Homo sapiens: one gene and its partner. The protein of the gene in region 2 interacts with the protein of the main gene of each other region in a pairwise test. Each region holds a gene or a part of one and is shown on either strand. Other genes may lie near its edges.

What was found. Proteins that work in one complex are often made in the same cells at the same time.
Region 1: the proteins of ST13 (region 2) and CD209 interact in binary tests that used the Homo sapiens proteins (3 or more experiments, as listed by UniProt).

The regions. Positions count from the first base shown.
Region 1 is NC_000019.10:7,739,493-7,744,693, reverse strand, and holds the end of CD209 (CD209 antigen), read left to right. Parts: intron 1-474; coding exon 475-587; intron 588-1,453; coding exon 1,454-1,655; 3' UTR 1,656-4,701; downstream 4,702-5,201.
Region 2 is NC_000022.11:40,852,790-40,861,596, reverse strand, and holds the start of ST13 (hsc70-interacting protein), read left to right. Parts: upstream 1-4,957; 5' UTR 4,958-5,056; coding exon 5,057-5,166; intron 5,167-8,807. Other genes in the region: DNAJB7 (dnaJ homolog subfamily B member 7), read left to right, coding at 1-532; XPNPEP3 (xaa-Pro aminopeptidase 3), read right to left, coding at 4,352-4,415. UniProt on the Homo sapiens protein: One HIP oligomer binds the ATPase domains of at least two HSC70 molecules dependent on activation of the HSC70 ATPase by HSP40. Stabilizes the ADP state of HSC70 that has a high affinity for substrate protein.

The sequences.
Region 1 (5,201 bases), on a different chromosome or scaffold from region 2:
ACAACCAGCTCTCTGGAGGAAGAAGTCCTGATGGGTCGTGTTTGCCAGTTTCCCTGGTGTAAATATTCCCATGGTGGCTGATTTCAAGCTGTCGTTGTGATGTCACTCAGTGCAGAGCTGAAAGGAGATGTGCATGACCAGCAGTTAGGAAATGGTTGCCTCTGGCTCCAACACATTAAGCCCAGTTATGAGTAAATGTGCATGGACATGCACAGAACATGTGAAATGGATAAACATGCAGTATTAGCAAGAGGGTGTGAGGAGAGGCCAGCTGTGCATGGATGTGTGCATGTCAGGACACATGTGCCGTGGGATACACATGTGAGAGGGACTCAGACACGAGGGGGCTCAGGACCTAGTATACCAGAAGGCTGTAGGTTAGCCTACAAGCAGAACTTCCTACCAAGAGATGGGGAGACAGAGCCTGGAAAATGGGAAGCAGAGCTCCCTCCTGACTCCTCCTGTACCCTCCAGAACTTCCTACAGCTGCAGTCTTCCAGAAGTAACCGCTTCACCTGGATGGGACTTTCAGATCTAAATCAGGAAGGCACGTGGCAATGGGTGGACGGCTCACCTCTGTTGCCCAGGTAGATCTCAGAAGGGGCACCCTATCCACTGGGGCTGGAATTGTGAAACTCTGATTTGAACTTTCCCTGGGGATCCTCCCCAACTCCCTGACACCCTAGACCCAAGAATCTGGAGGTTTTACTGAGTTGAGGAAGGTGGTCTTCATACCCACTTCCAGACAGCATGGCAGGTGCCTAGAATTCCACCAGCAGAGCTGCAGGAGGAGCCTGCCACCGGGGAGGTGTATTAAAATATAATGTATTAATAGGAAGTCTGAGGTCCAGTAAGGCCACCAGCTCAGGAGACACCTGCCATTGTGAATAGCTTCTCATATACACAGATCCCTAGAGAGAGGACACATCACAGCTGGGGGCCACCTGGGGAAGCACCAGGGTCTGTTATGAGTCAGAGTGGTGGGGAGGGGGGACTGTGGGCCAGAGCCTTTATTATGGTTTCTGTGGAAAGGAAAGGTCAAGGCCAGGTGAACAGGCTTAGGATTGGGAAGTGTGAAGCATTTTTTGGGCTCTGGGGCACAGGGGCTGCCCCTCGCTGTCTGACACCTGGCCTTGGGGTGATTAGTACAGGATAGTGGCTTGGAGTACAAGAGCCCAGTAAGGCAGGTCGCTGGAGGTGTGGACTCCAGACTGGTTGGCTTGTATTTGAAAATCACACACTCAATAGGTGGAGTCCACCCAAGGACAGGTTGTGAGAAGAGAGGCAGGAACTCAAGGCATCGTGAGTCAGGCATATTATCAGGTATGCAGAGGGATTCAAGTCCAGCATACACACGCAGGGCAGATGTTAAGGCATCAAGATGACAGAAGGTAGAAACACAGCTCATGTAGCTGGCGGGGACAGAGGCTCACATTCCGCATGGGCTTTGCAGCTTCAAGCAGTATTGGAACAGAGGAGAGCCCAACAACGTTGGGGAGGAAGACTGCGCGGAATTTAGTGGCAATGGCTGGAACGACGACAAATGTAATCTTGCCAAATTCTGGATCTGCAAAAAGTCCGCAGCCTCCTGCTCCAGGGATGAAGAACAGTTTCTTTCTCCAGCCCCTGCCACCCCAAACCCCCCTCCTGCGTAGCAGAACTTCACCCCCTTTTAAGCTACAGTTCCTTCTCTCCATCCTTCGACCTTCACAAAATCTCTGGGACTGTTCTTTGTCAGATTCTTCCTCCTTTAGAAGGCTGGGTCCCATTCTGTCCTTCTTGTCATGCCTCCAATTTCCCCTGGTGTAGAGCTTGTTTTTCTGGCCCATCCTTGGAGCTTTATGAGTGAGCTGGTGTGGGATGCCTTTGGGGGTGGACTTGTGTTCCAAGAATCCACTCTCTCTTCCTTTTGGAGATTAGGATATTTGGGTTGCCATGTGTAGCTGCTATGTCCCCTGGGGCGTTATCTTATACATGCAAACCTACCATCTGTTCAACTTCCACCTACCACCTCCTGCACCCCTTTGATCGGGGACTTACTGGTTGCAAGAGCTCATTTTGCAGGCTGGAAGCACCAGGGAATTAATTCCCCCAGTCAACCAATGGCACCCAGAGAGGGCATGGAGGCTCCACGCAACCCCTTCCACCCCCACATCTTCCTTTGTCTTATACATGGCTTCCATTTGGCTGTTTCTAAGTTGTATTCTTTATTTTATTATTATTATTACTATTTTTCGAGATGGAGTTTCACTCTTGTCGCTCAGGCTGGAGTGCCATGGCGCGATCTTGGCTCACTGCAACCTCTGCCTCCCGGGTTCAAGTGATTCTCCTGCCTCAGCCTCACGAGTAGCTGGAATTACAGGCAGGCGCCACCAGACCCGGCTAATTTTTTGTATTTTTAGTACAGATGGGGTTTCTCCGTGTTGGTCAGGCTGGTCTTGAACTCCCGACCTCAGATGATCTGCCCGCCTCGGCCTCCCAAAATTGCTGGGATTACAGGTGTGAGCCACCGCGCCTGGCCTATTATTTTTTGTAAGAATAAAACAGGTTTATTGGGATTTGGGACTCTGAACAGTTCTGTCTCTACTACCTGATCTCCTCCTACCACGACTTTGGGATCTAGAGGAGCTTTGGCTCCGGCTGTGACGGCTCCGGCCGTTCTCACTGCGGCTGCACCGGCCCCCGCTGCGGTCACTATTTCTTCCTCTGCTAGGTGAATTGTGCCTCTCCTGGCTCTTTGACATGTGCTAGTGAGATTTCTTCCTTTTCCTTTCGGATTCCCCATTTCTTTTGTAGGAATGGTCTGGACTAGGGTTCTCCTTCCCCGCAGCCTGTAGTATTCATCGTGGTGGCCCACCCTCTCTCTCCCCTTGGAGCTCTTGCCAAAGGAGGAGACAAGCAGAGGTCTCTATTGGATTTCTCAACACCTGAAGAAAGTTGCAGTGTTTTCCTCTTGGACATTGTTGTATTTCAAATAAACCACAAATCATCATTTTCCACCGAGCCACTGGGCAGAATTCACACTGAAGCTGTCGTCCTGCGTACATACCATCGTCCGTTAAACAGAGAAAGAGCTGCTTGGCATTCTTCTTCCGACTGGTACTGAACATATATACTTGCCCCTCAGGTGAGGTTCCAAGTTGCAACTGACCTTGAACTGAATCACTCTCCCCACGTTATTTTTTAATTACTATTTTTTTTTAAAGATGGGGTCTTGCTCTGTCGCCAGGCTGGAGTGCAGTGGCGCGATCTAGGCTCACTGCAACTTCCGCCTCCCGGGTTCAAGCGATTCTCCTGCCTCAGCCTCCCGAGTAGCTGGGACTCCACTAAAAGTACAAAAATTAGCTGGGCGTGCACCACTGCGCCCAGCTAATTCTTGTATTTTTGGTAGAGACGGGGTTTCAACATGTTGACCAGGATGGTCTCGATCTCTTGACCTCGTGATTCGCCCGCCGCGTCCTCCCAAAGTGCTGGGATTACAGGCCTGAGCCACCGCGCCCAGTCTCTCCCCACGTTCTTGAACTCGGGCAGCACATCCTCACAGAAATCTAGGAACTGTTGGTAGGTTTCTTCCTCGCTGTACTCCAGGCTTGCTTCGGAGTCATAGTCATCCCTCCTGCACTGCTCCTTTCCAAACACTGTAAACATGCTTTTAATAAGAAGGGTAGGACTGGATGTTGGGAAATCATGTGAACATCTATCTCCAAATCTGCAAGCTCCTGTTTTACTGTAGAAGGGACAATTAACTCCATCCTTCTCCATGACTCTGAAATCCAAGGGGGGGTTCCGGGTTTTGCCATGTGGCGCCATTTTCCAACTCATTTTCAGCCTGATCCAGCATCTTCTGGACAGCTTCCGGTTTTTGTTTCTTCTGTCGTTTCTGTTCCTCCTCCTCTCTCTCTTTCCTCTGCTGTTCTTCCCATTGTTCCTTTAACTTTCGCTCTTGTTCTTGCCGTTTTCTAGCCACCTCTTCCTTTTCCTTCTTTATTCTGAATTCTTCTTGTGCCTTCTGCTCTCTCAGCAACCACTCCTCATGTAATCTTTGCCTCTCTCTTCCCCATAGCTTTTCTAGTTGTTGTTTTTCAATAAAAGTGTCCTCCTCTTTCTGTGAGAGTCCTGAGTCCCTCAGTGGAGCAAGTTCCTGCTGGCGTTTCTTTCGTTTCTCCTTCTTCAGGGCGGCCCTGTACTTTTTGTGGCTTGGTTTCTCTGGAAATGTCACCTTTTCGGGCGCAGCCATCTTGCCGGCACCGCCCCGCCCCTCTAGTTGTATCCTTTATAATAAACTGGTAAACATTGTAACCGCAGATTCAGCCCAATCTGGTTCAACTTTGTGTAATAAAATGGCGAGTTGTTTTTCAGTTGTCGTGGACCCCCAGGTTGCAAGTTACATACCCTGGGCATGTCCAGATGAACGAAGCGTGCAAATCCACGTGGAACCTAAGTGCTCAGACCGAGGAACAGGGACTGAGTTAAGAAGTGGACACCACGTGGCATGATCCTTGATCCAATCAGATTGAGCCCTGGCGTGATCCAGTCAGATCAAGCCTCCTGAATCCCCTCATTACAAGATCCAATCATATCATGCCTCACTACCCTCTGTATATAAAATCTGCCCCAGCCTCCAACTTGGAGAGACAGATTTGGGCCAGACTCCTGTGTCCTTGCTTGGCTGCCTTGCAATAAATTTTTCTCTCTACAAAACCCCAGTGCTTCAGTGTTTGGTTTTCCACTGTGAGCCAGGGAACTGACCCAATTTAGTTCGGCAACAACATAAGCAAAATGTTTTCCCGAGTTCTCTAAATCATTCTAGGAAATTACTGAACTTGAGATGGACTTATGGGAAGCCACAATTTTTTGCCAGCCTGGCAGAAGTGTGGGTAGACAGTGCAAAGACTGTCTTTGCACCTGGCATCTGAAGCAGGGTCAGTCTTTTGGGACCTAGCCCTTTAATTTGTGGAATGTGGTGCTAACTCCAGGAAGCTAGTGTTAGAATTAGAGAATTTCTTTGGTGTAAATAAGACACCACAAACATCACTTCCTTTCTACTGATGTTGACCCCAAAGATGCACCTTCATAAACAGCTTGCAAGCTAAATTCCGTCTTACTTAAGAGTTGACCTTCAACAGGCAGAGGAACTGTGAGGCTTGTTCTATGTCGTCTCCCAGAGGCTCCCAGGGGGATTGGACCCAATTGCCCTTTTC
Region 2 (8,807 bases):
TGCAGGATACTTTTTCTCCACTGCCAGTGAATATCCAATTTTTGAGAAATTTTCTTCATATGATACAGGATATACATCACAGGGTTCATTGGGGCATGAAGGCCTTACTTCTTTCTCTTCCCTGGCTTTTGATAATAGTGGGATGGACAACTACATATCTGTTACAACTTCAGACAAAATCGTTAATGGCAGAAATATTAATACAAAGAAAATTATTGAAAGTGATCAAGAAAGAGAAGCTGAAGATAATGGAGAGTTGACATTTTTTCTTGTAAATAGTGTGGCCAATGAAGAGGGCTTTGCAAAAGAATGCAGCTGGAGAACACAGTCATTCAACAACTATTCACCAAATTCTCACAGCTCCAAACATGTATCTCAATATACTTTCGTGGACAATGATGAGGGAGGTATATCTTGGGTTACCAGCAACAGAGATCCCCCTATTTTCTCAGCAGGAGTCAAAGAGGGTGGTAAGAGGAAAAAAAAGAAGCGTAAAGAGGTGCAAAAGAAGTCTACCAAAAGGAATTGTTAAATTGACTCTTCAAATATATAACATTTGAACACAATTGTGTGTGTTTTGGTTAATCACAAATTTTGTAGATAACACTTAATACTATACTAAGAGCTTTTCAACACTTTTAGCAGGATTGTGGACATTTGGTTAGTAGTTTTTTTGAATGGGTATGTCAGAAAAGGATGAGTTTGTGGTGACAGTTGGTGCTAATAAGAATTTGCCTGGGCAGTATAGTGAGATCTTTTCTCTACAAAAAATTTAAAAATTAGCCAAGTGTGGTGGTGTGCACCTGTAGTCCCAGCTACTCGGGAAGCTGGTAGAAAGACTGCTTGAGCCTGGAAGACATAGGTTGCAGTGTAATGGGATCACGCCACTGCACTCCAGCTTGGGTGACAAAGTAAGACCCTGTCTTAAAAAAAAAAAAAAGGAATTTGGAAAACTGCAATGAGTTTTTTACTTTTGAATTTTTCTTTAGTAGAGTTTATAGCCTATTTTTCTTTTTTCTAATTAAAACCACTATACAAACTTACGAAACATGCATAGCATTAGAAGACAAGAATGTATCAAGACACACAGGTTCAGACTACACAATTATTCATGAAATGGCTGTTTTCCAATGGAGGAACAGCATTTGATGCATTATAACTTAAAGGTACTACAAATTAAAAATTAAAGTATAAAGTATTTTAAGTTAGAAATAGACTTAGCTGGGTGCAGTGGCTCACACCTGTAATCCTAGCATCTTGGGAGGCCCAGGCAGGAGGGTTGAAGTCAGAATTTCACGACAGTCCGGGTAACATAATGAGACCTGTCCTCTATGAAAAAACTTTTTTAAAAATTTAGCTGGGTGTGGTGGTACGTGCCTGTAGGCCTAGCTACTTAGGAGGCTGAGGTGGGAGGATTGCTTGAGCCCAGGAGTTTGAGGTTGTAGGGAGCTATGATCTTGCCATTGCACTCCAGCTGAGAGTGTGACCCTGTCTCTAAAGAAAAACTATAGAAAATTTAAAAAATTAAAAAACGGGTAACATGGTAAATTTTATGTAGTATATTTTACCACATTTTTTTTAAAGGCCAGTCTTATCCTGAATTCCTCAGAGCAGTCTGTATGGTAGGCCATCAGTGAATCACTCCAGACAGGAAATTTTCTATTTTTGTTTAGAGTTTGTACACAAAATCTACAAATACATTACTCTAAAATAGCACCTATAGCCATTTTAATTTAGTCATGTTGGGAGAAAAATAGATGGGTTACAAATACATCAGATATCGAGCAAATGGTTTGAGTTACATCTAGCAGCACTAAAACTTATTCAACTTTGGCCAAATACAAATGCGAAATTAGAAAAAAATTATAATATCTGCTATTTTTAAAAGACAGCTATAGTCAAGAGCTTGTGTTTTGTATCGGTATTTGATTTTTAGTGGGCAGATGGGAGAAGGAAAGGTTATTTATTCTATAGAAGAGACTGCGGACAATTAGTATTCAAAGTTTATTTTCAGAAAATAAAATAATAAAAGCCCAGGGTATTTTAAATGCTTCTAATATAAGATGTGATATTTAGTAGAGTTTATCTGTTATCATGCATGTGGTAGTAAAGTTGAAAAAAAAATTGCAATTTTCCAAAAACTAAAGCAAAAATCAGTGTCTCAGAAAATTTAAGAATGTAATGACATGCCCTGTAGTCCATTTCTTCACTCTTAACAGAAAACCAAAAATTTAGATTTAATCATCTTACTCAATAGCTTAAAATTCCTCAAAGTTTTCCCACCATCTAAAGGAAAAAGCTAATTGTTTGCTTAACATAATATACAAGGCCCTCCACGAGCCAGCCACCAGCTTTTTTCCCAACTTGATTTCCTATCAGCTCCTTGTACTCATCTTATGCTCTAGCCCAACTTCTCCCAAAATCTGTTCCAGGGATACCAGTTCAAGATTCATCACAGAAAAGGGGTCCATGGTCAAATACATTTTTACACATTTTGCAAATTACTGCGGAACACATCTCTCAGAAACCTAGACTATTAAGGGCTGGGTGCAGTGGCTCACACTTATAATCGCAACACTTTGAGAAGCTGAGGTGAGAGTTCAAGTTTACTTTGGGCAACATGGCAAGACCCCATCTCCAAAAAAAGAATTAAACTATTATGTACATTATGAAAGGCAGCATTCCCCAAAAGTATTTGATCACAGAATCATTTTCGTGTAATGCCTACTATTTTGTTTGAGAACATCTTTCAAAAAATCTTTTCCTAAGCCGGGCGCGGTGGCTCACGCCTGTAATCCCAGCACTTTGGGAGGCCGAGGCGGGTGGATCACGAGGTCAGGGGTTCAAAACCAGCCTGGCCAAGATGGTGAAACCCCATCTCTACTAAAAACACATAAATTAGCCAGGCGTGGTGGCGGGCGCCTGTAATCCCAGCTACTCGGGAGGCTGAGACAGGAGAATCGCTTGAACTCGGGAGGTGGAGGTTGCAGTAAGGCAAGAGATCGCGCCACTGCACTCCAGCCTGGGCGACAAGAGCAAGACTCTGTCTCAAAAAAAAAAAAAAAAAAAAAAAAGCTTCTCCAGCCATACTAAACGATTGCAACGCTTAGTGCTGGCCACTCCGTTTTAGAGTTCTGTGCCTTTGCAAGTGTTCCTTCTGGTAGTATGGCTCCTTTAGTCAGGCTGGGGAGAGCCTTTCAAATAAAAGCAAATTCCAGGCCTGGGGCGGTGGCTCAGAGAGGAGGGTGGATCGCTTGAGGCCAGGAGTTCGAGATCAGCTTGGCCAACGTGGCAAAACCTGGTTTCTACTACAATTACAAAAATTAGCCAGGCGTGGTGGCACACGCCTATAATCCCAGCTACCTCGGGAGGCTGAGGCACGAGAATTGCTTGAACTCAGGAGGCAGAGGTTGCAAATGAGCAGAGATTGCCACTGCACTCCAGTCTGAGCAACAGAATGAGAGCCTGTCTCAAAAAAAGACTGAAAAATTGCACATCTTTCTTTTCACCTAATCCCACGGAGAGTTGTCTTTCTGCAGCTTTACTATGAGAACTGAAGAACAAGTTCTGTGCACTGGACAATAACTTTTTATTTTTTATAGTAAGAAGTCGATGTAATTAACATTCCATTTTAAATGAATTCAAGTATATCAACATAAACATATGCCAAGACATAGCTTTGATGTCAAATACCATACGTTCTGGTTCACACATTGTTCATATATTGACCCAAAAAACTGAAATACGATCCAATGGCAGATCCGCCTGCAAGGAAGGTGATTCAGTTTTCACTGATTAAGCTTTATGTTCATCAGATTAATTGCTCGCAATAGAGGACACCCTACAAAAAATTATTCTCCTTATCCTTCGTCTTGTCTTTGCAAACAGGACTTTCAGACACAGAACGCCCCAGAAGTATTTCGAAACAGTTACCTCTCCTAAGAGGAGCTGCTGAAAGAATTTGTTACTAAACATGCTTCGTGTATATTCTGGAGCAAGCTCTCACGCCTAACAGAAACAAGAGCTACTTGATGTGAGACACTTTGTCACTTAAGTGTGATAATTGCCACAACTTCGGAGTCCGAGTAACTTGGAAGACAGCCCCTCTGGGGGATGGCACACTTTTCTCTCTGCAGTCATTTCGGCTTCACAAAATACCTCAACGGTAGAGAACACACTGGGCCCACCCCTTTCCAGGAGCAGCCGGTATAGAAGAAATCCGCGGAGCACAGAGGGTTGGGGAGCGGAGGCCCCACCAGGAGAAGGGTCAGCCGAACCAGGGATCGCCTGAGACCAACTTGGGTCCCTCCAGGGGACACCATGGGAGGAGACCGTGGGAGAAGAGTCTAACCTGAGAGGCCGCGGACGTTTGCTACAGCGGGAACCAGCTTGGGGGCTGAGAGCAGCCAAGGCATTACGGCCTAACTCACGCGTCGGGAAGAGAAAGAGGGTAACGACGGGGAACGCAACCGCCTGCAGGGCCGCGTCGCCAGGAAACCGGGCCAGCCGCACCTCCCCTTCCGGCGGAGGCGGCTCGCGGGCCTTCCTTGCGCGGCGGCGCAGGTTGTGACGTCATGCCCCGAGCTGGGACCGACCCTCCGGCTCCACGCCCTTTTTTTTTTTTTTTTTTAGGTCCCGGGCGTTGAGCTCTACTCAGTGCACGCAGCCACACAATATGCTCTTGGACGTCGCCCCCTGGAGGGGATGTTATCTCCCGCCTCCTTGAAGTCGCCCATTTCTGGGGTTGCCCCATCCAGGGAGCTGGTTCCTAGTTAAGAATATGAGAATGTATGCGCAGGGAGGCAGGCAACAGCACGAACAGCCACGCTTCTAGAAGATTCTAGGGAGCGCGCAGGAGCAGCGCAGAGGGAGTAGGAATGAGCAGGCGGAGGACCCGAGGTCACGAGACCGTTGGGTGGGAGGAGCCAGCGGCCGGGGAGGTTCTAGTCTGTTCTGTCTTGCGGCAGCCGCCCCCTTCTGCGCGGTCACGCCGAGCCAGCGCCTGGGCCTGGAACCGGGCCGTAGCCCCCCCAGTTTCGCCCACCACCTCCCTACCATGGACCCCCGCAAAGTGAACGAGCTTCGGGCCTTTGTGAAAATGTGTAAGCAGGATCCGAGCGTTCTGCACACCGAGGAAATGCGCTTCCTGAGGGAGTGGGTGGAGAGGTGAGACCCAGGCCTGAGGACCGTTGGGGGCGGGGGAAGCACGGCCCCAGGGGGGAGCCAGGCTGGACCTGGCTCGGTCCGGCGGGCGAGGCGGGGTCGCTGCCCCTTCTTTGCCCGGGAAAGGGAGGCAACTTCGAGGGGTCATGGAAGATCGCGAGCCTTGGGTAGTACAGGAGCCGCGGGGAGCAGGAGGCAGAGCTGGGTTCCTCGCACCCTGAGGTTGCCCAGGGGTGTATCTTGGGCGAAATACAAAAACAGGACTGCGGATGCGTGGACACTGGAGACGCGAGGAGTGAAAACTGCAAGACTTAGATTTTGCGTGGGGTTGTTTTTCTTTCAGTCTTGTGTGCCCTGCTCAGGTCTCATTGGTACATAGCAGTTCCTTTACGCACTATTCCTTTACGTCGTGTTATAATAATATAACACTAGTAAGTTAAAAGTTACAAAACTAGTAAGAATAAAAATGATAACTGTAAAAATGATTGTTTTTACCTTACAGCGTTTGTAGCTGCGTAGGATTAATTATCTTGAGAATCACTTATTATACCTCCGTTACTTGGCAGTGTTATCACTCCAAACACGTCTGAGAAAAATAATTTCTTAAGGCCTGGCATGTTTCCAGGATATAATCTTGTTGTCTTTAACTGTAGAGTACTTCGCTACGTGCAAGGAGTTAATTGACAAGGCATTGTGCCTGGTGCTAGGAAACAGTATAAGTACTGTCTATTTAGACGAATAAATAGAAAAGTTCGTTTTGATATTTACTATATAATAGTAATTAGCATTTTATGTGTTGAAGGAGCACCGAAGAGAAAAAGTGACAGGGAAGTCTTCCCTAAGATGACTTTTTAAAAAATTATTACTAATGGGGAACTGAAAAGATGACATACAAATTGCACTAAACAGGGATAAATAGCAACTATGCAGACCATTGCGACTCCTAAGAGGTGCTGCTGTGAACGTTATGTGTTTAGTGACTTTTGTCTTTTAGAGACAGGGTTTGGCTGTATTGTCCAGGCCGCATACAGTGGCGGGATCACTGCAGCCTCCAATTCCTGGGCACAAGCGATCCTCCTGCATCAGTCTCCCAGGTGGCTAGCAGTGCGGGATCGAGCCACCATACTTGGCTAATTTAATTTTTTTGTAGAGATGGGGGTCCCATTAAGTTGCCCAGGCTTGTCTTGAACTCCTGGCCTCAAGGGACTCCCCCGCCTCCCAAAGTGGTGGTATTACAGGCGTGAGCCACTTCACCCAGCGTGATATTTTTGTGTGGGAAGATGAGCTCATGATTACCAAATAGCTCAAAGAATATTTCTTAACAACAATCTGGTTCTAAGGAAAAAACTCGTTACAATCTGTCAGCGTTGTATGTTGTATTTTTTTCCTCTAAGAAGTTTTTCAATTTTTAGCTCCCCACCAATTGTCTAACTACTGGAAGACTTACTTATATGTGAAATTCTGAGACCATTTAATATTACTATGTTAATAGTAACTTTATGAATATTGGTAAGAAGTCTATTTTGCAAACTCCTCAACCGGGAAATGTCAGGATTAGGAATTGAGGGCTAGGTTTTAGTCGTTTTCTCTATTGAACAGCTTGATGATCCAAAAGCCTTAAGATATTTGTATGCTTTTATCCTAATTATAGGAAAGAACCTGCAGTTAATAAATTCTTTCTAAAATTCCAGGTAACGTAGACAAGTATCACAGGAAGAAAATAGCCGGCTCCAAGAGCTGGCTCCACTTTACATTAAGTGGATACAATGTTTTTGTTTCATTCTTACTAGTGAGGAAGAGGAGACACAGAAGAACAAATTAAAAGCATGTGTAAGAACAGTGTCCTCCTGACTTGTGCTGGAGTGATTGTGCCTATGTAGAGAATTCCACTTTAAGGTTTGCAAAATATTTGTCAGGCACTACTATCTCCCAAACAAAAACAAGAAATAGTCATATACCTTATTTTAACATAGGTAATTCCAGTTTTTCTTTCTGATTCCACTTACATTCTTTAGCCATCCTGAGTTGGCTGAAGTATGGGGTGAAGCATCATGGCATATGTAGGGACTTTATTCTGAACTTAAATTGAGATATTTAATATAGAAGCTTTTTCTCTTTATTTCTGTATTTAAACTAAGATTTTTATAAACTCTGAGGCCTTTGCGTTTGTGTCAGTTTCTCTCTCTGCCTTCATCAGTCTGCAGTTCGAGATTGTGGCAGATGGGGCTGAATGTGGAGACTTCTAGGTCCAGACGTCTTCCTAGGCCTGATGCTACTGTTAGGGTTACTCAAGTTGAAAACATGTGTTTCTCACAGGCTTAGCTGTTGAAGAACAGTACATCTGCCTATTTGCTATAATTGCTAGCATTGTTTATAGCTTAGTTTTATTTGATATAAGGATTTATTAGTTTAACCTTTTAAATTGCACAAAGAGAAATACTAAAAGTCTTTCTGAACTAGTTGTCAGTGAGGATCCAGGAGACTGTTCTTTTCAAGAACTGTGTTTTGAGATATTTTTGTTTTTCCCTTTTTAGAGACAGAAGCATTCTCCCACTCTATTTTCTCCCGTTTAACAATTTAGTATCTTGTATGTGGTTTCATGGCTTTACTTGATGGTAATTAAGATCGAAGAGAGTGTCTTTGTTTTCTACTCCCTAGTACAGTACGTGGCACATGGCTTTTCCTAAATGTTGTAAAGGAAATGAACAGAATGCATTTCTACCCTCAATATAGAATTTAGAGTGTAGCAACCAATTTTTTGTACATGTGTACAAATAACCATAGCACAAAGCAGATTAGAAGGTTATCAAATTAAGAGAAATGTGAATGAAGTTTTATGTGGTCCTATGTGAGAAAAGTCTCTACACTGGTCCTACTTGATTGTGTAACATAAAAAAGCCTGTAGTGCCAAAGTCTAAGTGGCAGTTTTTGGCCAGAAAGTAGCTTGTTCTAAGCCTTGGAAGCATTAATTGAAATTTCGTACCTATGAGTTGGTGTTTTCTTCCATTAGTTAACTAGAATTTGGGATGGGAGAAACTAAATCTAGCTTATGAGTAAATCCTCTTTTTTTTTTAAAGTTTTTATTTTTTTTGCAACAATTTCTAGCTCAGAAAAATTGCAGGTATGGTACAAAGGAATTTTTTCTGAACTAGTTGAGAGTAAGCTGCCAACATTATACCCCAACACCAGTGAGTGTGTACTTCCTACAAAGTCTTTACAATGCAAATACTAAACTTAGGAAACTAATGCTGATGCATTTATGCTATCTAATCCTCAGATTTATGTGTTGCATTTAGTTGCCATGTCACGTAGTCTCCATTCTGAAACAGTTCCTCAGTCTTTCCTTGACTTTCATGATCTTAACAGTTTGAATGTTATTGGCAAGTTATTTTATAGACTTTCAATTTGGGTTTGTCTGGCCTTCCCTTAGGATTGGATTTAGCTTAATACATTTCTTGGCAGGAATATCACTTCCCAAAGTTAGTGTACTGTAAGTTATACTATGTCTGGATGTCACTCTAAATACATTCCTGACGCTGCATTTTGAAACTTAGGAAGAACACAGTGTAAGAAACCCTGTGTCTTCATTAAAATTTAACTACAAAGGACTGGTGATTACTGTGCTCTTTTGCAAAGTAGTGTTT